7 linked regions of the Homo sapiens genome follow. The protein of the gene in region 1 purifies or fractionates together with the protein of each later gene. This does not show direct contact. Each region holds a gene or a part of one and is shown on either strand. Other genes may lie near its edges. The genes, in order: PALS1, TWF1, MILR1, RPH3A, ZNF451, AMOTL1 and GAK.

Region 1 (3,500 bases):
GGAAACTGAAAGAGATTTAGCAACCTGTGTGATTTCAGATAGCAAATCAGTGGGAAAAACCGTATGAGAACTTAATTAGGTCGCGCTGTTCTTGGACCAAAATATAGCTTCCACTAGATTACTCTATATGACATTCCTTCTAAGTTCAAACCCTAAAACAAAGTTCTAGCTTTACCTGTGTACGAAGACTTAAAAGACATATTTTGCCAGAGTTGATCACTTGCCGTACAGAATCTATGCTAGTTCCATACAAATTCTTCTCAAATTCACCATGCTCAATGAACTTTCCAGCTGCTATGTCTGCCTCGAATGCTTGCCGCGAAACAAAGTGGTAATCTCTACCGGCTACTTCTTGGTCTCGCCTACTCCGGGTTGTATCTAGGCAAACAAAATCAGATAGAAATAACAGGCATGGCTTAGAGTGAGGACAGGGGATAATTCTGCTAGTCAGAAAGAATTTCTATTTTGTAACACAGATTATAAAATAATAAACTGAGAAAATGCTAAGTGCCTACATGTTTAACATTGTTTTTATTTTTTGTAGATTGAAAAATGAACAAAAATGAGTTTGTAGTATCTTAGTAATAGTTATATTTATCTCAATACATTTTATGCTTACACTTCAAGTTACTTCATCCTGCATTTAAAACACTACTACTCATCTTCTCCTAAAGTTTATCTCCATAAGATTAGGTACCATATAATCTTATAACTTCTGTTTCAGATTATGCCTAAGTTTCTATCTTCTGTATCACTTTAAAGCAGCAGGAACTGATTCTCTATGGAACAGGAAATTATAAGGGGCCCAAACTGAAATTTGTTTAGAAAATAATCAGTACATACTTGAAGGACAAATTTAAATTTCTTAATAATGACTATTTTTAATTTAAAAATTGTCAAAATCTTTGGTTAAAGTTCCTCTTTCACTGACAACAGTGTTTTAATGAAATGAATAAAAAATTTCCCTACATGATATAGTTAGGTTCTGAGCTGGTAAATTGAAAAGCACAGGAAAATGGGAATGCATTCAAACTTACGAGGAACTGCAGATGCAAAGCGGTCCTTTTCTTTGTTCATGAGCCTCTGACGCAATTCATTCTGGCCACAGTTCTGTGGACCAATCAAGATGATAGGTCTCTTCCTATTTGCTGGCTGATGATAAAGTGACATTTCCTCATAGGTTAAGATCTCCTCGTTGTCATAATCTTTGGGAAAAAAAAGTTAAGCTCTTCAAACAAAATTATGGCCATGTATTAAAGATATAAATACTCATAGATCTTCACCCAAAATTAGACAAAAGCACAATTTATTGTCATTACATCCTTGCTAGGGTATCATGAAAATGAATCAGACAACAATATAATACTCCTTCTATTAATTTTTATCTCATTTCATATTTGAAATAAAAAATTCATGCTTGAATGTCTAATACAATATAATTATACTGATTCTTACATTAAACAGCTAATTTGCAGTCAATACTTTGAATAAGGATGCGGTACCAGGGAATGAACTAGTAAGAGTAATATCCGTCATTTTTGAAGAATGCAGATATTAATATTCTACTTAAGAAGGTTGTTTTAAGAATCAGACATAATGTATACGCTGAATACAATGGCTAGCATAGACCGACATTTACATATAGTGGCTACAACCAGTGTTATCAGAGAAAGCTGGAATACTTTCCTATAGTTCAAGCTCGTCCAACCCGTGGCCCATGAGCTGCATGCAGCCCAGGACGGCTTTGAATGGGGCCCAATGCGAATTTGTAAACTTTCTTAAAACACTGTGAGATTGTTTTGCAATTTTTTTTTTTTTTTTTTTAGCTCATCAGCTATCTCTAGTGTTAAGTGTATTTTACGTGTGGCCCCAGACTATTCTTCTTCTAATGTGGCCCAGGGAAACCACAAGATTGGATACCCCTGCTGTAGTTGTATAACTTGAAAACAGGCCATATGCATGCTATCTCCACTTTCTGCATTTATGTTTACTCTACTCTGGAATGCTAACCCAGAGTCATGAATCAAAATGAGGTATAAATTATGACAGGTGGGGTAACATTCCTAAAGCCCATAATCCAGATGAAACCAGAGCTGTCAAGTGGTAAGAACAAAAGCAGATAACTAGTAGCCTGCCAAGTCCTCACTCATATTACTTCTCCTGACTGTGAAGGAGCATCAGATGTGAAGTCAGACTCCCTCAGCTCTATTTCCATGAGGTTAGGGGACCATCTTAGGCTTGTCAATGCTCAGCACAGAGCCTGGCACAGAGCAGGAGCTCAAACTACACTTGTTTAAATTCCAGCTCAACCAATCATGTATTAGTTGTTAAGAATTTCAGCAAATCACTTTAATATCTAAACTTTTTTTTTTTTTTTGAGACGGAGTCTCGCTCTGTCGCCCAGGCTGGAGTGCAGTGGCGCGATCTCGGCTCACTGCAAGCTCCGCCTCCCGGGTTCACGCCATTCTCCTGCCTCAGCCTCCCGAATAGCTGGGACTACAGGCACCCGCCATCACGCCTGGCTAATTTTTTGTATTTTTTAGTAGAGATGGAGTTTCACCATGTTAGCCAGGATGGTCTCCATCTCCTGACCTCGTGATCCGCCTGCCTCGGCCTCCCAAAGTGCTGGGATTACAGGCATGACCCACCGCGCCCGGCCTAATATCTAAACTTGAATCTATTACTCTGTAACCTCAAGGAGTTTGTGAGAACAACATCATATAGTTACTGCCCTGGAATACAGCAGTTATTATGAATTGTAGTTATTTATTTAAAAATATTCATGATGATGACATCATCATAAACAGCAAATGTAATTCCTTCTCCTCTCAAAATGATTTTCTCTGAAAAATCTGAGTTTATTCTAACACGTATAATCAAGACTGGTAGCATTTTAATTTATAGACTCAGTGTGTATATCCATAAGGTTCAGATTTGCCACGTTTTCTACAGTACAGTAGCTCTTAGAGCTGGACTAGTTAACTTCAGTCTGTTTCAAAAAATAAAAGAGATATTAATCACAAATATAGAGGATAAAATTTAAAACTCATTAAATCTTTTTAGTTACATAATCTGTCAATTAGCATTAAAGGATATTTATTTTAGAAAAAAATTTATTAAAGTTGATCAAACCTCATTTAGCTTTTATGGAATATTATAATGATCTATAATGTTTTATCTTTATTAGTTTAATGTGTGCTGCTCCCAAATATTTCAAATTCTTGACAGAAAAGCCTTATAAATTACATAAGAAGGAAAGCCTTTGCTTTATTATTTGGGTTGCTTCTAATGTGAACCAAACAGAAGTAGCAAACTCAAATGCCCATAAAAACAAACTAAGGAGGTAATAAAATCAGTAAATCAGGTTGGGTTAATAAAACACTGGGAGTGGTAGAGACTGTTAAACTAGACACCAGGTGCTTGATATAAGAGCAACAGTCATCACTCAGGTCCAGCAGACTGTTGTCACCTAGGAATACTAGCCCAACATTATCAGAGCT
Region 2 (3,095 bases), on another chromosome or scaffold:
GCCTCGGCCTCCCAAAGTGCTGGGATTACAGGCGTGAGCCACCGTGCCCGGCCCAACGATGAGCCTTTCTAAAGCTATTTCAGCATCTTTTGTAAAACTGCTACCAAAGACATCCATCTTGTCACATCTCTAATAAAAAGGATTTGAAACCAAATCGCACACAGGAGTGCATTCAACATTTTTCACATGAATGAATACAGTGGCAAGTCTGAGTTTAGTGTCAAGTAAATCAGTACTGGGGTGCTTCTGTTACAGAAAATGAATAACTCATGGCATTTTTATTATTGCTACAACAGTGGCAAATTTTTAATCTAAGCACTCTATAGTCACAATTATTCTTGCCTAGGTTTAAAGCTACTTAAAATCCTTTTTGGACTTAGGCAGACTAATTAACAAATAAATGAATGGGATTCCTAACCTAACACCAGGTACTGAATTATGAAACATTACACAAACAATTAAAAAAACTATAGTAGAAAAACCAACAGAACATACACAACTTAAAGAGAAAAAATTTTTATTGTGATATAAAATGCACTTATAAAATGTCCACCAGAAGGCATGTAATTCTTCACTGCTATATAAATTTACTGGGAATATGTTATTCACCATCTAGGTATGATACTGCCAACTAAAACATACTGTAAACGATGAGTTATACTCTATAACAAATGCATCACTGATTTTCAGCAATCATTGGTTTAATAATAATTAGTTTAAGACTATAATCACATCTATATTCTGGAATGTCCATTTACTTTAATGTAGTGTAGTGGAATTTAGAGTATAATTGCACATAGATGGTACAGAAAAACATTCACTTCTAAATTATTTTATACCTTCATGACAGGTAGTCTTCCTGACTGAAAATAACAGCTTCAGCTATGGTCTGCTCCAGGATTCTTAATGCAATAATTTGGGTGTATGTGTGTCTGTCTACGTGTACACCCATGGAACAACTTATATCTTTAGTAAACAAGTGCAACATTATTGTCAGTTATTTTGCATGTTTAAATATTATAGTCTGATTATTTGTAAACAAACAAAACCCCAAATACTCTAAATTCTATTTTAAAAATCTGTCAACCCACAATTATTCTAATATGCTTTACTTACTCGAACACAAATTTCTGAAAGGTGCATATATTACCTTAGATAATAAGGTTTAGAAATGAGTGCTTCACACTATGAAATGTGCATTTCCGATAAGTGATTTATGCAGCATAAAGTTTAGATCAAGAAATTACAAATCCTGGATCCCCACAGTTCATTTAGAAAATGCCTCAAAGTTATGGCTCTTGCAGCAGGTTTAACAGATTAAACATTAAGTGTTCTAGCTCCCTCTATTTCAAGTATCAAAGAAATATGAGGCTCAAAATCTCTCTAGGTTGTAACTGATAATGCAAAGCATTAGAAAACAGTTAAATGTGTTTTGAAATACAGTATTAACTGAGATTATTAAGGTGTTTATCTACGTTAGCCTGTTAAGTACCAGGACTTTAAAGTAATTTTAAATCTGAGTATTTGCTCGGAAGTGATAAAGAACACAATTTGCCCATAAATGTATGGTTTTGGAGAAAAAAGTCAATCCTGATTTTTAAAACTCAACATTTTTTGTTTCCTTTTGAATGATATTAATTTAAATTTCAATCTGAACATAAATGTTTGGCCTCACAGAGCATTAGAAAGATAATTTACTAAGGCTGTTTAAAGTCTTTCAATGTCATCAGAAATCCTGCAGTATAGAAAATATCTGGTACCCTTAAAGTTTCAGAGTGAGCTGATCTGCAATTTTAATGCTATTAAAAAAAAGTCAAATATAAAAGACTGCTGCAATATAAAGCACTATTTCTAAAAGTTGCAGACATGATCCTACAGTCTGACAGAGCTAGCACAGCTACTCGGAGTAAGCAACTTGCGGCCTTTTCCAAGGCACACTAAGTTTCCAGCTTAGAAAATACTCTAGCCTGGTCCTTAACATATTCATTAAGTAATATGAATATTTTAAGGTCTTTCTGTCCCACAAGAAAGTAGTAAGTTTACCCTTTGAGACATCAGACTTTCTAGAACTGGCCCAACTGTATAAAATTTTAAGAAGTATTTGAAGTGTGGAATCAACGCTATGAAAACAGTGTGACAAAATTAAACATTATGTTGAACCCTTTTCTAGCTTTAACTCAAAAATAGAAATCATGAGTCTTCTATAACATTAATTTTAAAAACACACAGAAGTGAAAAGTGCTATTTTCCAAAAAGTACAATTTTTTTCCCTACTTTATATCAACATGGAATGATTTCAGTTCTCCTGTACTAAAAGCTGGACTTTTAAAAAACTAGTATTACAATGTTTAATGTGATGACTTTAATCAGTAGTAGCTTCAGTTTCCGCTGGGCCCCTAATTAGTCTTCGAATTCCTCTTTTTCCTGCAGGACCTTTTGGTTTTGCAAAACTTTGCTTGTGTGCATGCTGCTTGGGATGTACTTCTTCATAAAGGAAGTCTGCAGTCAACTCATCCCCATTGTCTATCTCGATCTGTAAAAGATAAAATTAGAAGCACAACATTCAAAACCTAATACAAGCAACAAGCTGGTTTTCAGGTATATGAATGCTCACAAATAATACCCTTTCCAGTAAGGCAGAATCAAGGACCATATGTAAACAGTTTCACTTTCTTCTTTTGGGGGAAGGGGCTAAATGAGTTACTTGAATATATAATCAGCTACATTCACTTCCTTCTTGGTTCTTTCTTAGTGCTCCAGTTTAAATAATGTTTAAAAGTAGAAGCCACCACTACATTCTCAAGTTGCTATGATACACTATTTATTCAAGGAACATTTACTCATGACCCTTTCATCACTTGGGTCACTTGAAAGCCCTCTACAAGAGAGGTAAACAAACCATGGCCCGAAGGCCAAATCTTGCCCAAGGTAAGATTGTTTTACATTTTTTAAGGGTTGTTAAACAACAATAAGAATATATGACAGAGATTATATGTGGCTTGGCAAAGCCTTTACTTACTATTTGGTCCTCTGTAGAAAGTCAGCTGATCCCTGCTATAGAAGGTGCTACCCATGATAAAGTGATTGATTCTTAG
Region 3 (3,500 bases), on another chromosome or scaffold:
CTCTCTCCTACCGCCTTGGGAAGAAGGATGTGTTTGCTTCCCCTTCCACCATGATTGTAAGTCTCCCGAGGCCTCCCAAGCCCTGCGGAACTGTGGGTCAATTAAACCTCTTTCCTTTATAAACTACCCCATCTCAGGTATGTCCTTATAGTAGCATGAGAATGGACTAATACATCAGCCGAGGCGCTGGGTCTTGTTTACTGCAAAGCAATATGCAATGCCTGCTTTGAGAGGTGACCGTGAAAGACTGTGAAACACAGTGTGGATCATTCTGAACAGATGTGAAAAATCTCCAAGATACGTTGTTACATGAAAAAAAAACAAAATCATGGTGTAGAAAGTCATACCTACAATATGCTACAATCACTACCATTTGTTTATTATACACACAGAATATCTGTGGAAGGATTTAAAAAACTGGTTATTACCCCTAGAAAGTGGGACTGGGCATCAATAGACATTGAACTCTATCCCTTTTGCTCCACCCCCCACTCCCGTATGTCTGTACAACCTTAACAAAATAAAAAGACAAAAACCTGAAACCACCCAAAACACGCAACAAAGTTCTCTTACTTGCTTGTTTTTCAAGGATATTTGCATAGATTCCAACTTCCATGGCTGTGTCTCCACGGTCCCTGGGCACATTATTTCTCATAGCTTTTCCTACGTAAATAGGTAGGAATCATCAAATTAAACCAATTCAGCCACATTTTTCTCATCTCCTCGGCCAAGGAGCAGAATTCCCTCAAAGTTCTGAAACAGAGAGTGACTTGCTCCAATGGCCCAAACTGTTGTCTAACAAAGGAAAACTATAGACTCAACAGGGAGTCTAGACACCGCTCCTCCAAGCCAGGGGCTGTTCTGATTTATTTTCCTGGCCTTCAGAGGAACATGCTTTGCCTATCAGATTATGCCTGAACTAGCCAGACTTATTTTCTTTCCTTCGCTGAAGAGAATAGTCTGTGGAAGCTTTGTAATATCTTCAAGAGAGTGTAAATGGCCTATTGAATTCTTTTTTTTTAAGATGGAGTCTCGCTCTGTCGCCTGGGCTGGAGTGCAGTGGCACTATCGTGATCTCGGCTCACCGCAACCTCCGCATCCTGGTTTCAAGCGATTTTCCTGCCTCAGCCTCCCGAGTAGCTGGGATTACAGTTGTGCACCACCATGCCCAGCTAATTTTTGTATTTTTTTGAGACGGAGTCTTGCTCTGTTGCCCAGGCTGGAGTGCCATGGTGCAATCTCCGCTCACCGCAACCTCCGCATCCTGGTTTCAAGCGATTCTCCTGCCTCAGCCTCCTGAATAGCTGGGATTACAGGCATGTGCCACAATGCCTGGCTAATTTTTTGTATTTTTAGTAGAGGCGGGGCTTCACCATGTTAGCCAGGCTGGTCTCAAACTCCAGACTTCAGGTGATCAAAGTGCTGGGACTACAGGCATGAGCCACTGTGCCCGGCCAGCCTCACTGAATTCTATTGTAGCTCCAGCCAGTAATCAAAAATATTAATGCCACTTTTGCAAGAACCTGGACTTTTTATAAGAAGGAGAAACATGTTTTTAAGACATATGAGATGTGGGCCAGGGTGCAGTGGCTCACGCCTGTAATCCCAGTGCTTTGGGAAGCTGAGGTGGGAGGATCACTTGAAGCCAGGAATTCAAGACCACCCTGGGGAACATAGTGAGACCTTGTCTCTAAAAAGAATTTTGTAATTAAAAAAAAAACAAAAAACTGTAATCCCAGCACTTTGGGAGGCTGAGGCAGGAGGATGGTTTGAGTCCAGGAGTTCAAGACTAGCCTGGGAAACATGGTGAAACCTACAAAAAAAAAAAAAATTAGCCAGGCATGGTGGTGCGCGCCTGTGGTCCCAACTACTCAGGTAGCTGAGGCAGGAGGAGGCCTGGGAGGTCAAGGCTGCAGTGAGCCATGATTGCACCACCGCACTCCAGCCTTGGGTGATGGAAGTGAGATCCTGTCTCAAAAAAAAAAAAAAAAAAAAAAATGTCAGGCGCGGTGGCTCACCAGCCCCAGCACTTTGGGAGGCCGCGGTGGGCGGATCACGAGGTCAGAAGTTCAAGACCAGCCTGGCCAACATAGTGAAACCCCATCTCTACTAAAAATACAAAAATTAGCCTAGCGTGGTGGTGGGCGCCTGTAATCCCAGCTACTCAGGATGCTGAGGCAGGAGAAACGCTTGAACCTGGGAGGCAGAGGTTGCAGTGAGCGGAGATTGTGCCACTGCACTCCAGCCTGGGCAACAGAGCGAGACTCTGCCTCAAAAAAAAAAAAAAAAAAAAAAAATTAGCCAGGAGTTGTGGTGCATACCTGTATTCCCAGCTACTAGGGAGGCTAAGGTGGGAGGTTACAGTGAGCTATGGTGGCACCACTGCACTCCAGCCTGGGCAACACAGTGAAGCCCCATCTCTAAAAAAAAGAAATGAAATAAAATAAAATCTTAAAGATGCATCAGATGTATAACTTGTGACCTCTGTGTTCAAGTTTTATGTCAACTGAGTCCCTGACTTCTCTGAGTTGTGACTCTCTGGAGATGGTTCTCAATTGGTTCTCTTGCCAGTTCTGACAATATCTCCATGGCCCATTCCACAACTCAGAACACTGAGGCTCAGAAGCAACAGCCTGAGGGGCTTGTCCAACAGCCCTCAGCTTGCTGATGGGGGCCAGTGCTGAGACCCAAACTGTCTTTTGTGTAAATCTTCATATCCTTCTGCACTCGTGTACCAAATGAAAAAACCACTTTGAAGGCTTAACCAGTGGTGGCCATAAGACGTGAGGAATGAAAAGCAGTAACTGGGCTGAGTGCAGTGGCTCATGCCTGTAATCCCAGCACTTTGGGAGGCTGAGGTGGGAGGATCGCCTGAGTCCAGGAGTTCAAGACCAGCCTAGGCAACACAGTGAGACCCCGTCTCTAAAAAACATTTTTTTAAAAAAGCTGTAACTGAGGCTTCTAATAACATTGACAAGTTTTCTGCTGGATGTAGCACTTAAGGTGGGGAAGAGAGAAATGATGCTTTTTTGTTTCTGTTTTTGTTTTTTTGAGTCTGGTGTGTTTAATAAAGTTTTTTAAAAAATCTTATAGTAGAATAGATTATACTTCTACATTGAAAATCTAGAAAGCATAGAAATGTAGAAATAAAAAATATGTATATATTAGGTTGGTGCAAAAGTAACTGTGGGCCGGGCGTAATGGCTCACATCTGTAATCCCAGCACTTTGGGAGGCTGAGGCGAGCAGATCACCTGAGGTCAGGAGTTCAAGACCAACCTGACCAACATGGTGAAACCCTGTCTTTACTAAAAATACATGGTGGTGGGTGCCTGTAATCCCAGCTACTCAGGAGGCTGAGGCAGGAGAATCGCTTGAACCAGGGAGACAGAGGCTGCTGTGAGCCGAGATTGCACCACTGCACTCCAGCCTGGGCAACAGAGCGAGACTCCATTTCAAAAAAAAAAAAAAAGTAATTGTGGGTTTTGCCATAAAAGTATG
Region 4 (3,500 bases), on another chromosome or scaffold:
TGTTCCCTCTGCCTGGAATGCTCTCCCTCTAGATCCTTACATGGTTGGCACCTTCTCGTTATCCATATCTCAGCTTAAATGTCACCTCCTCAGAGAAGCCCTCCTTGATCACTCTCTAAAGTAGCTACCATCATAGTCACTCAATGTATTTTATTTCTTTTATGGTGCTCTGTCTCCACTCGAAATGAATTCGTTGGTATGTTAACTGCCTCTCTTCACTGGAGTGTTAGCTCCAGGAGAATAGCTGGCATGTCTATCTTTTTTTTTCCATGATATCCCCAGCATCTAGAACAGTTTGAGGCACTTTGTACATGCTCAATAAACCATTGTCAAATATAGAGATGAGTGAGTGTGTGAAGAGTATAGAGTATGGAGACAGGTTTGTAATAAACAGCCGGGATAAGTTAATAACAGGGACAGACATGAGGCTGGGAGGACTCATCTATGCTTGGTGGGTTGGGGACATTTAAGGCCGATGGAAGGAGCAGTAGCCAGTGTTCCAGGGAAGGACCAGGATGAGGGAAGGCAGAAGGGTGCATAGACAGGGCATTTTCAGAGCAGAACCAGCCTGTGGCTGACAAGATGGGTGGACTCCTCTCCTTTCTCCTGAGACCGCAGACCCATGATCCATGGGAGTGCACAGGGCACGAAGGGGGACAGCTGATCTTCCATGCAGTCCTGGCCTCTGATCTGCTACAGCTGTGTGATTGACCACCAGCCCCTCCTTGAACTGACTGGATGAGCTTGGACAAGTCCCTCAACCTCTTGGAGCCTCATCTCTCAATCTGTAAAATGAGAGTTATAAAAGCAACTATGCCCAGGTTCGTAGGGAAGATTAAATAGGCAAATGCACAGAATACACTCAGAATAGTGCCCAGCACAAAATGAGTGCCCAACACGTGTGGACTTTTATTACCTCTGATGTCCATACGCATAACAACAATTCCTCGTGGGTGTTTAGCACTATGTAATAATGATTTCCATTTTATGAAGCACCTTCCCAGAAGGTATCTCAGTTTATCTGCCCCTTAGCCTGTGGGGGAGGTGGTGCTGTGCTTTTCATTTTACAGTGAGGAGAGATGACATGGCAGGTCAAGGCCGTGTTGCTGGTCACAGCCCTTGATCTTTTCCTTCTGTGTGGATCCAGTTTTCCAACTTGATCAGAAACAACTGGTAATGTCCCCACCCACCAACACATATTGGATGCAGACACTTGCCAATTCTACCTCTCTCCAGCTCACAAAGTCTGCCCCAGGCACACCAGGGTTAGCGGGGGGAAATGCCACTGGTGTGTGTGTGTGTGTGTGTGTGTGTGTGTGTGTGTGTGTATACGTGTGTGTGTGTATACGTGTGTGCGTATCCCTGGGACTTGGGGCCTGGGTGGGATAGGTACATTGTAGGCATTCAATAAGGATGCAAGAGAAAATGCCCAGTAAATTTTAAATCATGATTAATAAATTACTTTTAGAAGATATACATTAAAGAGTTTTAAAAATTGTTAAAATTCACACCTAGGAGCGAAATTGCTGAGTCATATAATAATTCTATGTTTAACCTCTTGAGGAGCTAGTAGACTGAACATCAAGAATGTAGTCAATGCCACCGAATTGCAATCTTTAAAATGATTTACATGGTACCATTGATGTTATTTGTATTTTACCACAATAAAAAATATATGTAGCACTTACTCTTTAGGAAGCTGATATTTTGTGAATTTAGAAACACAAATCTGTACTTCTATCACTTGGTTAATATGTTTATTAGGTCTGGTATATTAGGGGTCTGGGGATAGACAGGGCTGTTCCTGAGCCGTTCCTGTTTTCCTGGGCTTGGCTCCTGAAGTGATTTTTCCAAGATACCTCTCCCTTAGGCACCACCTACTTGCTTCATCCGAATCGTAGCTGTTGGCTTCCTCTTCCTCCTCCTCTGGGGGTGGTGGCTGGCGGGCTGCAGCAGGCTGGGGGGCAGCTGCAGATGCTTGGGAATAGGGTCCGGAGGGGTGGCTCATTCGGTCCTCTCTGGCTCCAACTGCTGGGTAGCCCCCGACTCCCCCTGTTCTCTCCTCTCGGGGTGGGGCAGTGGTCCCAGGGTCGCTCGGAGCCACCTCTGCAGGGAGATAAGGACAGGAAACATGCAGCTGCATCCCTGTTTCATAACAGCAGCACCTAGGGACATTTTCAAAAGATGCGGATTCCTGGCTTCACCCGGAATCAGTGGATATGCAGTGGGACCTTGGGATCTGTGTTTGACAATAAGCCCCTCGAGCTGATTCAGATGTAAGCAAAACAGACCTTGTGGGGGTACAAATCAGTGGTGTGGACTCTGGAGCCCAGACAGCCTGGGTTTGAATCTTGGCCATGTGACCTGCGGCAAATTACTTAATGTCTCTGAGCCTCAGTTTCTTTATCTGTAAAATGGAAATTATAATATCTGAAGCTCCTCAAATAATAGTATTTTTTAATGAACAAATACAGGTGTAGCACTTAAAACAGTGCCTGATGCCTGAGAAAGCAAAAAGTGTCTTGTAGCTGTGACTGGTACATATGATGGTGATGCATATTGATCATATATATTAATAGCAACCACTGTCGCTCAGTGTGGGCTTATTATATTCCAGGCCACCCACCAAGGTTTTCTATGTGTTAGTTTGTTTAATCCTCCCAACAATTCTGTGAGGTAGGTCCTAGTATTATTCCCATTTTATAAATTAGGAAACTGAGGCTCAGGGAAGCTAAGTAACTTGTCCAAAGTCACACAGCCAGGAAGTGAAGGGGCAGGGATTTGAACCCAGGTAGTCTATGCTCTAAACTATATGTGTTGGCATTTCTATCTAGCTAATCTTAGTACGGACTATCTAAAGTTTTAGACTCGGGGGAGCTGTTTAGATCTCATCAGACAGGTCTCAGGGTGCAGGCTGAGTCACGTTCTGGCAGCTGCCTGCTCTCTCTCAGGGAGGTAGGGGAGAGGTGGCCACTTGGGCAGGCATGGGAGGAAGCAGATACTTGCCTGGCTTCTGATCTGGAAAGCGTCCTGCTGGCCCAGGACCCGGTCTGCTTCCTCCTGGGGTCCCTGAGCAGGGAGAGGAGACAAACAGAGATGCAGCAGAGAGGGTGGCATCATTTGGGGGTTCACCTTTTCCTTTTCATTTCACAGGTGTGGACACAGGCCCGAAGGCAGAAAGGTACCCGAGGCTGCAGAAACAGTCCCACTGGGAGAGGAGCTTTTGGATTTAGAAAGACTTGGATCCAAGCCCTAGTGCTGTGGGAACTTCCTGAGCCTTGACTTGCTCCTCTGTGAAATGGGGGTGTTGGTCCTTGAGGTGGGAAACACTGGCGAATGAGGTGCCATCACTTTCTGCACTGGGTGGGTAAGATGCTCCCTGCCTCCTCCTCCCACTCCCTGCCCAGCTTCTTGGCCCAGGGAATTACTGGTTGTAAGGGTCTTAGAAGAGGTTAAGATTTAGTTGTGGCTGCAGCTTTGCAGAAAGCCCAGCATGCTCT
Region 5 (3,500 bases), on another chromosome or scaffold:
GGCTGAAATGGTTCTTGTGCCTCAGCCTCCCAAGTAGCTGGGACTACAGGAGCATACCACCATGCCCAGCTAATACTTGTATTTTTAGTAGAGACGGGGTTTCTCCATGTTAGCCAGGCTGGTCTCAAACTCCTGGCCTCAAGTGATCTGCCCGCCTAGGCCTCCCAAAGTGCTGGGATTACAGGTGTGAGCCACTGCGCCCTGCTGATGATACTGTATTTGATATATATTAAGACACTTTCATATTTTAATATCTCTAAAATTAAGAGGTACCTTAACAATCACTGTTGGCCTAGACAGAATTTGCATTTGCTTCTGTCTCTGCTGGGTACCTAGAGAAACTGCCAAACTGAGACCCACTTTAAATTTTCTGCTTGGGGACTTACATGTCACACTGATAATGTGAATTTACTCTGCAAACTTGTTGACTGCAGCTTATGGTTTAAACAACAAAAGATTTCTTTTTCAGTCTATCTAATGCCAAGATTGAATCATGCAAATTGCCTTGCTTACCTTTTCTCTATGGCAGATTTATTTCTTATTTACCCTTATATTGAGCGTATAGCCCTTTGGCATTTCAACCTTATGTGAGGTCTGTTGGACTTCCATTTTGGCTTTTTCTTTTCATGGCACATTAAATAGCTTATATAATTTAATGGCATCTTATATTTGATTAAATGTGGGGTATTTCATTTATGAACGAGTTCTTTCTTTCTCTCTTTTTTTTTTTTTCCTTTTTGAGACGGAGTGTCACTCTGTCGCCCAGGCTGGAGTGCAGTGGCGCGATCTTGGCTGCAACTTCTGCCTCCCGAGTTCAAGTGATTCTCCAGCCTCAGCCTGGAGAATCCCGAGTAGTTGGGATTACAAGCGCATGCCACCACACCCAGCTAATTTTTGCATTTTTTAATAGAGACCGCGTTTCACCATGTTGGCCGGGCTGGTCTCGAACTCCTGACCTCAAGCGATCCACCTGCTTTAGCCTCCCAAAGTGTTGGGATTACAGGCGTGAGCCACTGCACCCAGCTGAAGGAGATCTTTATGTCATACTTTGGTAGGGACTAGGGAACAAGCTTAATATACCTTCCTAGGCATGTGTTCATTCTGAAATAGATGTAACTTGTTTTGAAACTCATGCTGATTTTTTATCAACCTGTGCCATTTGTTCTAACTTAGGCTGGCCGTCTAGATGAACAACTACCCAAGCAAATTCCTTTCACCATCCTCTCAGGAGATCAAGGTTTTCTGGAGCTAGAGAATCAATTTAAGAAGACTCAGAGGCCAGCTCATATACTAAACCCTCACCACTTAGAGGGAGATATGATGTGTGCCTTGTTAAATAGCATATCTGATACCACCAAAGGTACGCAGCTGCAGTCACAGTGCAAACCACCCAAGAGGAGGAGACTTCACTGCTGAGAGAAACCAATAAACTGCTGTCCGCTAGTGAACTGTTGCCTGCTTGCTAAACCATCATGTTCTCTTACTTCTATCTTACTTATCTTTTTTAAAAAAATCTCACTTTCATTCTTTAGTGTTTTAGAAGGAGGATGAATTCATAATAATTTTCTGGAGCTTTTTTTGATCTAGTAGATAAAATCTATATTGATGTATATAAAACATATATTCATGTGTTACAGTATGTTACTACAATTTTAAAAGCTCAGAATTCAGATCTTCACTTTGTTTCTGAAATTCCAAGTTGACCTTCAGTTTTTTAGAAAGCAGTGCGCTTAGAGGTGAAAACCAGAAAGCAATAACAAAGGTGATCATTTAAGAGGTTGACAGTGACAAAATAAAACGCTGATAGGCTTTTAGGTCCTTAGAGAAGTGGGTACATCCTATCTTATTGCTGGGACTTGCACTTTCTTCTGTACCTTTGTGAGATTGTTCAATGAAAGGAGTGCTGATACCCAATTTCACTTCCTAGTATATAAGAAAAGATGTAATTCTAAGGATTCAGAAGTTTTGTTTTTCGTTTTTCATAATTTCTGCAGTCAAATGCTCTACCACTGAGTTATAACCCCCTTTTTCATAATCTCTGAAGTAAAGAAATATGGATAGAATAATTAATGTTTAAATATCCTAATAATTTAAATTCATGAATAAGGTTTGAAGATATTAATGAATTACCTTAATGAAAAATAGTGGCTTTTTGGCATTTTTATTGTGTGCCTTTAAAGCTTTCAAGTCTGCTTGCCTCCTAGATTTTTTTTTTCTTTCAATATATTTGGAAGCACATTTTGATTGAAAACTCATTCTGGAGAATTTTGCTGTAATCACTGATTACAGTGGATCAATTCACTTCTGCAAAGTTAGGAATCAGTAATCTGTGCTCTTTATACTCTTTAAAGTGGAGTAATGATGGAAGATTATAAAAGAAAATGAACTCTTGTGTCTTTATGTCATGCCTTAGTTCTGAGTATTATCTTCCTATTCTGTAATTTTTGTTTTCACTTGTTTTTCTATCTGTGGCTTTCTTTTTTCTTAAAACAAAAAACAAAAAAACAAAAAAAACAGGCTGGGTGCAGTGGCTCACACCTGTAATCCCAGCACTTTGGGAGGCTGAGGTGGGTGGATCACCTGAGGTCAGAAGTTCAAGACCAGCCTGGTCAACATGGTGAAAACCCATCTCTACTAAATATACAAAAATTAGCTGGGCATGGTGGCGGTTGCCTGTAATCCCAGCTACTCGGGAGGCTGAGGCAGGAGAATCGCTTGAACCCAGGAGGCGGAGGTTGCAGTGAGCTGAGATTGCACCATTGCGCTCCAGCCTGGGCAATAAGACCAAAAACTTCGTCTCAAACAAAAAGCAAAACACCTCTTCTACTCTTTTGCCATCGCTTTCCCAGTTCTCAACATCTACTTAATATCCTATAAGATAAAGTTTTACCTTTGCCGCACAAGGCCAACCTCCCTTTCCTTCTCTTATGCTTCTGCTTTTGGGAACATTTCTTTTATAACTCCAAATGTGAAACCTGTTATGGTTTTGCAGAGGCAAAACCATATTCTGTTTGGAATGAGAGGTGAATACGAGTAGACTTGCATGGGTATATTACAGTTGGAGGTAAGATACAGGTTATTAATATCTGCTGATTATGCCCTTCCAAATGACTCTTATGTTCTAGGTATTCTTTTTTTTTTTTTTTTTTTTTAATCACTCATACTCAGTACTCATTTGAACTAACTACTCTCTGGAGGCACATGTGTACTTTATTCTTAGTTTTTGTGACATACAGAGATTGTGCACTGCATGAAGAAGGATATGGGCTTTGGTTCAAATGCTAACTTTGCTGTTTCCTAGCAGCGCGATTTCAGGCATGTTACTTAACTTTTTTGGAGCCTCATTTTTTTGTATTTATATGGTTGTAATAGTTAGTGATGTATGTAAAGTGTCTAGCACAGTATATAAAGCACTTTAGCTATTTAACAAATAATAGCTATTTTTTATTATTACTACCATAAAAAGAAAATGTGATTCCTAGCCACTACATTTTTAATGT
Region 6 (3,500 bases), on another chromosome or scaffold:
CCACCCATGTCCATCCTCAACCCTTTCCCCCATGGATGAGGCCTCCTGTGCCCTCTTCCCACACCCTATGGCATGGGGTGAGCTCCATGCTCAGCCTCTCAGAGCTCCTCAGTTTTCCTGTCTGCACAACAGGTACTCCGATGCTCAGTGTGAGACTAGAGGAGGTGATGAGCAGGTGGCACAATGTGCAGTGCCTATGGCCAAGCAGAGCCCCAGAGGGCCAGTTCCCACTCCTCTGTCGTACTGGGTGGCACAGAGGCTGGCCAAAGCCACTGATTTCTTCCCTTCCCTCTCCAGCTTACACCTCTTGTCTTCCTTCTGTCACCTCAATTTGGGGAGGCTATAACTTCACCGGGGTTACACACCCAAGACCAGTCCATTTTAGGATCCAAGCAAAGTTTCCTGAGTAGCACTCTCTTGAGTGTTTCATTTAGAAGGTACTTGGAAGAGGTACCCCCCTTTCTTTCTTCCTCTAAGTAAGCATGAGCAAAGGGAACTGGGAAAACAGCGATCCAGCTGACCTGGAGGTACAAAAACATCAGGACCCTGTAGGAGCATCTCTCTGATGGCCCGATGAGCTTCTCCTCTTTTCTAATCCAGCATCTCTTAGATTTGTAAAGGAAGCCAGTGTCTGCAGAGCTGAATATGCAATGTCACAGCAGAGGTCTAATGGACCCACCACCTAACACACTCCTGCCTCTTTTCCGTGGCACTTCTGTCTCACTTTGAATAAACTGCCTCAAAACTGAAACCCGGAAAAACCTGACAACACTGTATATACAACTGGCCTGGTAGGTTACAAAAGAAGTTCACAACAGAGGCAACCTGGTGCCACGGAGGTCTGGATGCTGATCGAGAGCAAGCAGAGGCGTGCGCGGGGGAGGAAAGAGTGTGAATACGCTCATGAGCCTCAATACAAGAAGCTATACGGGAGGCTGGTGAGATTCTGGAAACCACTGAGACAACTGTCTGTAAATTGTCATCTGTTTCCTGGAGTGCTGTCCTAAGTCTTCCCCAAACAGAGCAATGGAATTTGGAAATGTCAAGCTCCTTGCAAGACAGCCGATGTGAAAGACAAAAAAGCAAGTGCCACGATCTTAATGCAATATGTCACAGGGACCCACGGAATCTCCTGCCTCCTCAAAGCTTGCTTAGTTCACAGTCAGAATGAGGTTCGCAGCTGCAACCCAGCTATGCAAAGGTGAAGCAGCCAGGAAGTCGGCACGTGGCTTTGTCCTACTGGTCACTATCAAACACAGTAGGAATGATGACAGTTCAGGTACTGGTCTCATAAATCCCATACCTAAGGAATTCTGCTATGTCTTATTAAAAAGAAAAAAATGAAGGAACAACAAAAAATTAAAGACTGTAAAGCAGAGACAGAGATGAACTCAGAAGTTAGGATGGATGGGGACCGAGATCATAATCTATCCTGTTTAGAAAATACTGCAGAATTCAGAAAAGCTAAGAAGCCCAATCATCTCTTGAAAATCCAAACCAAACAGGTAATTAGGTGAAGACCAACTTTCATATTCCCCTCGCCCTCGATGCTTCTTCTCACTGCCACACTCACACTCACGGGACACCCCATGGTTGGCACAGGTGACACTGCATTATGCCAAGACAGGCTCTCAAGATTTCCTGGAGGCTTTTCTTAAATCAAACATGCTAAGAGGCAAGGAGAATGGGGGTATTCCAAGGATGATCCACATTTGGGTTTATCTGTTTATAATCAGAGAATGGGGGTACACAGGCCCTCCCCAAGAGATACATTTTCTGTACAATGAAAAATTCAGTTTCCTATTTCTTAACTTTGTTTGCAAACCTACACGCCTCTTCTCTCTTCCACCATGTGTAATAAAATCCATCGCATTCTCTTCTATCTTCAGTCATGTAGTTTTTGTGTTTAACATTTATAAAATGTGTTCTTATGAGTCTGAAATCTTTATCAGTTCAAATCATTCCTGATTTCCCATCTACAACCTTCTAGGTCTTTCTTCTTTCTCTGCCGCTTTCCTTGTTTGTCAGTGTTCTGTACTGAAATTCCACAGGGATGGCAGTTAGATGAGGACTTCCATCATCTCTCCATCAGGGAACTCGGGCTTGTGCAGCAAGCTGCTGACCCGGCCTCTGTGGTCAGGCGACTTCCCATGGCCAGGAGAGTTCTCTGCCAAATAGAGGGGAAACATCAGCTGCCCATTCCTCAGGAGGGGCATAGGCTTTCCAGGTTCTCTAAAATGGACCCACGTCCGATACCACTGCACACCCAGGATTCTCACCACAGGGCATGTGAGATGATCCAGCCCACAGTGGGAACATGCAGAATGACTGGGCCAGGATTCAGACACAAATACAAACCAGGATGGTGAAGGGAGAGGATTCAGAAGGTGAGGATGACAGTGGGACTCTGTACAGGAGCCCCTCACACCCTCTACTCAAAACTATCAGGTGCATATTCTGAGCTAGGCACTTTTGACAGGTTCTCTGGCTTACTTGGAAAAGAATCACATCTTTAAAAAGTGACAACATTGTATTTACTTGTCTACTTTGAAAAATGAAATAAACAACCCCCTTGGAGGAAACAGTTAACTTAGGGCCCACAGAGCCTGCACCTCCTCAAAAGAATTCCTGAAAAGGGAGGTCCCCATGACCATGATTAGTCTCAGGTTTTAGGATGTGGAGAAGCCAATGGTAGGCTGGGTACTCTCTGGCTACTTAAAGCCTTACCCATTTAAGAACATTTGTGGGATCCCACTGACCATGGCCATGGTACTCCTTTGCTTAAGAGGAGTGCCTTAAGAGGCCAGGTCTATTCTTACCCAGGACACTTAGGGACTCACTGCAAAGATCACCTCTCCCAAGTTGTCTTCCCGTAAATATTTTAAACAGCTCGTTAGTCCTGGCCCAAGTGCTGTGCCACACGTTAACCGACTCTGCAGGTCAATCTACCTTCTCCTTCCATCACAATGTCCTCCACTGAGGCCAGAATCCCTGGTAAGTTAGAGCCCTGAAGGCAACAGTGAACTTGTGCCTTTGATGTACCTGGTGCCTAATTCTGGCTCCCAAACATACCAGAGGGCATTCAGCCCCTTAGAGGGTCTGTTGTCACTCCATCCGGGGAAAGGTTAGTTAAAAAGTATGCATTGCCAGGGTAGTCTCAAGCCGTGCACTCATTTCAAATAGTAATAAACTAGATGTGTCTATATGCATATTTATTCCCGTAATAAGAAAGGGCACACATATCCTAAGTGCATTAGAATAGCATCCCCATAGAGTAAGAGCTGATGGGTGCCCCTGCTTCCTCTCTAGCTCAACAAAAGATTCTCTTAGGCCAGACAGTTCCACAGTTTTCAGGGGCATCAAGGTGGGGTAGCCCACATACCCAGTTTCTCTGCGGTCCCTTTGGCCGCTGGGTGTTTCAGGACGGGGCTGTGAGCAGGGGTCGTGCTCAGCCGGCCGCGGCTGGGAAGGGAGGCCATGCTGGGCCAGAAGAGCTCGGC
Region 7 (3,540 bases), on another chromosome or scaffold:
TTGGCTCCTGGGGGTGACGTGGGGACACTGCCCCAACCCCCGTGGACAAGCCCTGGGTCTGCCTTGGCTCCTGGGGGTGGGGTGCTGCCTCCACAGCTGCCCTGTCCTGGTGTCTGCCCTCCATCCAGAGTGTTCCCGTCGCCCCAGCACCTGGCCTGTGCTCCAGCCCCTGGAGACCTTCACACGTGTGGGTGGAGCCGGCACCTCTGGACGGCCTCGAGTGATCGGTGTTCTATTTTGCAAGCGCATGTTTTCCAATATACGTGGTGCTCTGCGTTATAGAAACAGTAGTTGCCCCTCATGGACAACCAGATGCCGAGTTTCCGATCTCCATCTCCACAGGCTCACCAGCTGGATTCCCTCCTGGGGGCTTCATTCCCAAAACGGCCACCACGCCCAAAGGCAGCAGCTCCTGGCAGACAAGTCGGCCGCCAGCCCAGGGCGCCTCATGGCCCCCTCAGGCCAAGCCGCCCCCCAAAGCCTGCACACAGCCAAGGCCTAACTATGCCTCGAACTTCAGTGTGATCGGGGCGCGGGAGGAGCGGGGGGTCCGCGCACCCAGCTTTGGTGAGTCCCCCACTCTCTGTTGCTGTGGAGTTTGCAGAGACCTCCCTGAATTGGCTAAAGGTAGAACCTATGTTGTTTTCTTCATCTCAGAGCCCAGTCCTGGGACAGGCACGGCCAAGCCACTCAGAGAACGACGCGGTTTCCGATGTGTGTTCACTGGTCTCTCTCTGGGTCAGGCCTCTGGGTCCCTCTTGTTCCAGTGACACCTTCTTGACCTGTTTTTAACAAATGGCCTTTGCAACCCTGTCTTGTCTTCCCTCTTCTTTACTCTGGAGGCATCAGGATGGTAGCCCTGTTCCCGGGGGCAGCAGGTGGAATTGGGCCTGTGTGTCTCTGCAGAAAGTTTCTGTTCTTAACTGGGCTTTGTGGCTCACGCCTATAATCCCAGCACTTTGGGAGGCTGAGGCGGACAGATCGCTGGAGCCCAGGAGTTCAAGACCAGCTTGGGCAACAGTGATACCTCCTCTCTACAAAAAATGTAAAAATTAGCCAGGCATGGTGGCGCATGCCTGTGGTCCCAGCTACTTGGGAGGCTGAGGCAAGAGGATCGCTTGAGGCCGGGAGGCAAAGGCTGCAGAGAGCTGAGATCACGCCATTGCACTCTGGCCTGGGTGACAGAGTGGAGACCCTGTCTCAAACAAAAAAAAGTTTCTGTTCTTTTCTAGCTCAAAAGCCAAAAGTCTCTGAGAACGACTTTGAAGATCTGTTGTCCAATCAAGGCTTCTCCTCCAGGTCTGACAAGAAAGGGCCAAAGACCATTGCAGAGATGAGGAAGCAGGACCTGGCTAAAGACACGGACCCACTCAAGCTGAAGGTGGGTGGGTGGGCAGCTCTTCCTGGGAGCCCAGAGGCCTCAACCCATGGCCCCTGGAGCATCTGCTGTGCCTTATGGAGCCGGCGTCTCCAGACAGCAACCTTTCACCCCTGGAGCATCTGCTGTACCACATGGAGCCGGCGTCTCCAGACAGGGACCTGTCACTGCCGATGGGCCTGGCAGCCCTCAAGGACAGGGTGGCCTGAGGCCAGGGGGGCAGGGCAGAGTCAGGCCCCAGGCTGTGCTGCTCCCCACGTGCCCAGATGGCTCAGCGCTGGTGGGGGTGGGGTGGGCGGGCGTTACAGGAGTGAGTGCCCCGGGGTGTTTGCAGAGACTGTTGAGGGCAGGCGTCTCTTGGGGGCTGCTCTGGGTACTGAGCCTCCCAACCCAGGACGCTCACTGGGGGGTGAGGATGCAGCGGTCAGGCTGTCACTGTGCCGGCCCTGAGACACGCCCTGCTCTGTGGCTTGGCCGATGCCCAGCTCTGCAGGCCACATGCGCCTGTGACCTTGGGGTCCTTTCACAGGCACCAGGGACCATCCCCTTCTCCCTCGGAGTCTGGGGCCTGGGATGGGCCAAGGGGTTGCACCACCAGAACCAGGGTTTGTGTCCTCGGTGAACATCTGGCTGAGACGAGGGTCCCTCTGGCCCCAGGCCCTGAAACATGAAGACCACCTGGCCCTGTGTCGTCCGGAGTGGGCTCTATATAGTTGAGGGCAGGGCGTGCAGTGGGACAGTGTCTGTGAGCCGGGCTGAGCCCACCCCACGTGACCAGGCACTTCCTCAGCGTCGTGCCTCAGTTTCCGCGGTGCAGAGGAGGAGGGCAGGCAGGTGCCCAGGGCTCGGCAAGCTCCGTGTCTCCCGCAGCTCCTGGACTGGATTGAGGGCAAGGAGCGGAACATCCGGGCCCTGCTGTCCACGCTGCACACAGTGCTGTGGGACGGGGAGAGCCGCTGGACGCCCGTGGGCATGGCCGACCTGGTGGCTCCGGAGCAAGTGAAGAAGCACTATCGCCGCGCGGTGCTGGCTGTGCACCCCGACAAGGTGAGCAGAGCTGCCAGGCGGCCGCTTGAGGCCTTCAGGGGCGGGGCGGGGGGGGGGTCCTGCCCCGCCCGCCCCCGCATGCTTATAAGAGGCGCTTACACCGCCTGTCACCCATAGGCTGCGGGGCAGCCGTACGAGCAGCACGCCAAGATGATCTTCATGGAGCTGAATGACGCCTGGTCGGAGTTTGAGAACCAGGGCTCCCGGCCCCTCTTCTGAGGCCGCAGTGGTGGTGGCTGCGCACACAGCTCCACAGGTTGGGAGCCGTCGTGGGACCTGGGTCCCCACCGTGAGGACCCCGTGGGCGACAGCAGGTGTGGCCAGGGTGGGGCTCCGAGCCCCGGGTCACCGCCCGCCCAGCGTTCCAGGCACATGAAGAGAAAGCATTCCAAAGCCTCTGATTGTTGTTTCCTTTTTCTCCTCCCGAAGGAACAGCTGATTCATGCTCCTCCCGCAATTGTCACGTCTGTGATTTATTTGGTGTTTCGGGCGTGGCCTCTGGAGCCCCGGCACGTGGTGGGCCACGCTGCTGGCGCTCATGGGCCCTGGTGTTTGCACCGCACTTTGTAATCAGTCCCGTGGTTGTCTGTACAGAATTAAACTATTTTCCGATGACTGCTGTGTCTCCAGTGTGGATCCACTCGCCCAGGTGCCGTTCACCAGCTGGGGCACAAGGCTGTGCTTCCTCAGCAACCTTGCCGTGGTTGGATTGTTGCAGGGGCCGAGTGGAGAGGAGAAGCGGGTCCCGGGGCTGCAGCGGCTCTGGGCAGCTCTTCAGGGGGCCATAGAGCCCAGCCAGGGCAAGGCCAAGGGCGGGGGCCCCTGCAGTCCCCAGACCCCCTTCCTCCCCTCGGCCCCGGGACTCCTCTCTCCTCTCCACTTGGCCCCTGCCCCTGGGCCCTGGACCTAGGAGCAAGGGTGGGCTCCACACTGCCCCTGTGCCATCCCCGCAGGGCCAAGGTGGCCTCCGGGCTGTCGGGCTGGTGGAGGACCAGGGGCCCCTGGAAGGAGAAGGTGACCATGGTGAGCCCCCACCCCACAGCAGACTCGAGGAGGCCCTGAATCATAGCCCTGAACTCACCGCCAGGCTCTTCCTGTTTTCAGAGAATAATGAC

What was found.
Region 2: the proteins of PALS1 (region 1) and TWF1 purify together in Homo sapiens (co-immunoprecipitation; one large-scale study listed by IntAct). This does not show direct contact.
Region 3: the proteins of PALS1 (region 1) and MILR1 purify together in Homo sapiens (co-immunoprecipitation; one large-scale study listed by IntAct). This does not show direct contact.
Region 4: the proteins of PALS1 (region 1) and RPH3A purify together in Homo sapiens (affinity purification with mass spectrometry; 2 studies listed by BioGRID and IntAct, with this or other methods). This does not show direct contact.
Region 5: the proteins of PALS1 (region 1) and ZNF451 purify together in Homo sapiens (affinity purification with western blotting; one study listed by BioGRID). This does not show direct contact.
Region 6: the proteins of PALS1 (region 1) and AMOTL1 purify together in Homo sapiens (affinity purification with mass spectrometry; 3 studies listed by BioGRID and IntAct, with this or other methods). This does not show direct contact.
Region 7: the proteins of PALS1 (region 1) and GAK purify together in Homo sapiens (affinity purification with mass spectrometry; 2 studies listed by BioGRID and IntAct, with this or other methods). This does not show direct contact.

The regions. Positions count from the first base shown.
Region 1 is NC_000014.9:67,317,935-67,321,434, reverse strand, and holds part of PALS1 (protein PALS1), read right to left. Parts: intron 1,206-3,500; coding exon 1,038-1,205; intron 379-1,037; coding exon 176-378; intron 1-175. UniProt on the Homo sapiens protein: Plays a role in tight junction biogenesis and in the establishment of cell polarity in epithelial cells.
Region 2 is NC_000012.12:43,793,223-43,796,317, forward strand, and holds the end of TWF1 (twinfilin-1), read right to left. Parts: intron 2,929-3,095; exon of another isoform or gene 2,753-2,928; intron 2,599-2,752; exon of another isoform or gene 2,580-2,598; intron 2,534-2,579; coding exon 2,363-2,533; 3' UTR 501-2,362; downstream 1-500. UniProt on the Homo sapiens protein: Actin-binding protein involved in motile and morphological processes. Inhibits actin polymerization, likely by sequestering G-actin. By capping the barbed ends of filaments, it also regulates motility.
Region 3 is NC_000017.11:64,462,615-64,466,114, reverse strand, and holds part of MILR1 (allergin-1 isoform Allergin-1L precursor), read right to left. Parts: intron 664-3,500; coding exon 574-663; intron 1-573. UniProt on the Homo sapiens protein: Immunoglobulin-like receptor which plays an inhibitory role in degranulation of mast cells. Negatively regulates IgE-mediated mast cell activation and suppresses the type I immediate hypersensitivity reaction.
Region 4 is NC_000012.12:112,875,248-112,878,747, reverse strand, and holds part of RPH3A (rabphilin-3A), read right to left. Parts: intron 3,070-3,500; coding exon 3,007-3,069; intron 2,107-3,006; coding exon 1,882-2,106; intron 1-1,881. UniProt on the Homo sapiens protein: Plays an essential role in docking and fusion steps of regulated exocytosis.
Region 5 is NC_000006.12:57,152,688-57,156,187, forward strand, and holds part of ZNF451 (E3 SUMO-protein ligase ZNF451), read left to right. Parts: intron 1-1,173; coding exon 1,174-1,360; intron 1,361-3,500. UniProt on the Homo sapiens protein: E3 SUMO-protein ligase; has a preference for SUMO2 and SUMO3 and facilitates UBE2I/UBC9-mediated sumoylation of target proteins. Plays a role in protein SUMO2 modification in response to stress caused by DNA damage and by proteasome inhibitors (in vitro).
Region 6 is NC_000011.10:94,869,356-94,872,855, reverse strand, and holds part of AMOTL1 (angiomotin-like protein 1), read right to left. Parts: coding exon 3,383-3,500; intron 2,168-3,382; coding exon 2,061-2,167; 3' UTR 1-2,060. UniProt on the Homo sapiens protein: Inhibits the Wnt/beta-catenin signaling pathway, probably by recruiting CTNNB1 to recycling endosomes and hence preventing its translocation to the nucleus.
Region 7 is NC_000004.12:848,777-852,316, reverse strand, and holds the end of GAK (cyclin-G-associated kinase), read left to right. Parts: intron 1-342; coding exon 343-567; coding exon of another isoform or gene 568-770; exon of another isoform or gene 771-1,008; intron 1,009-1,232; coding exon 1,233-1,381; intron 1,382-2,248; coding exon 2,249-2,425; intron 2,426-2,542; coding exon 2,543-2,644; 3' UTR 2,645-3,040; downstream 3,041-3,540. UniProt on the Homo sapiens protein: Associates with cyclin G and CDK5. Seems to act as an auxilin homolog that is involved in the uncoating of clathrin-coated vesicles by Hsc70 in non-neuronal cells. Expression oscillates slightly during the cell cycle, peaking at G1.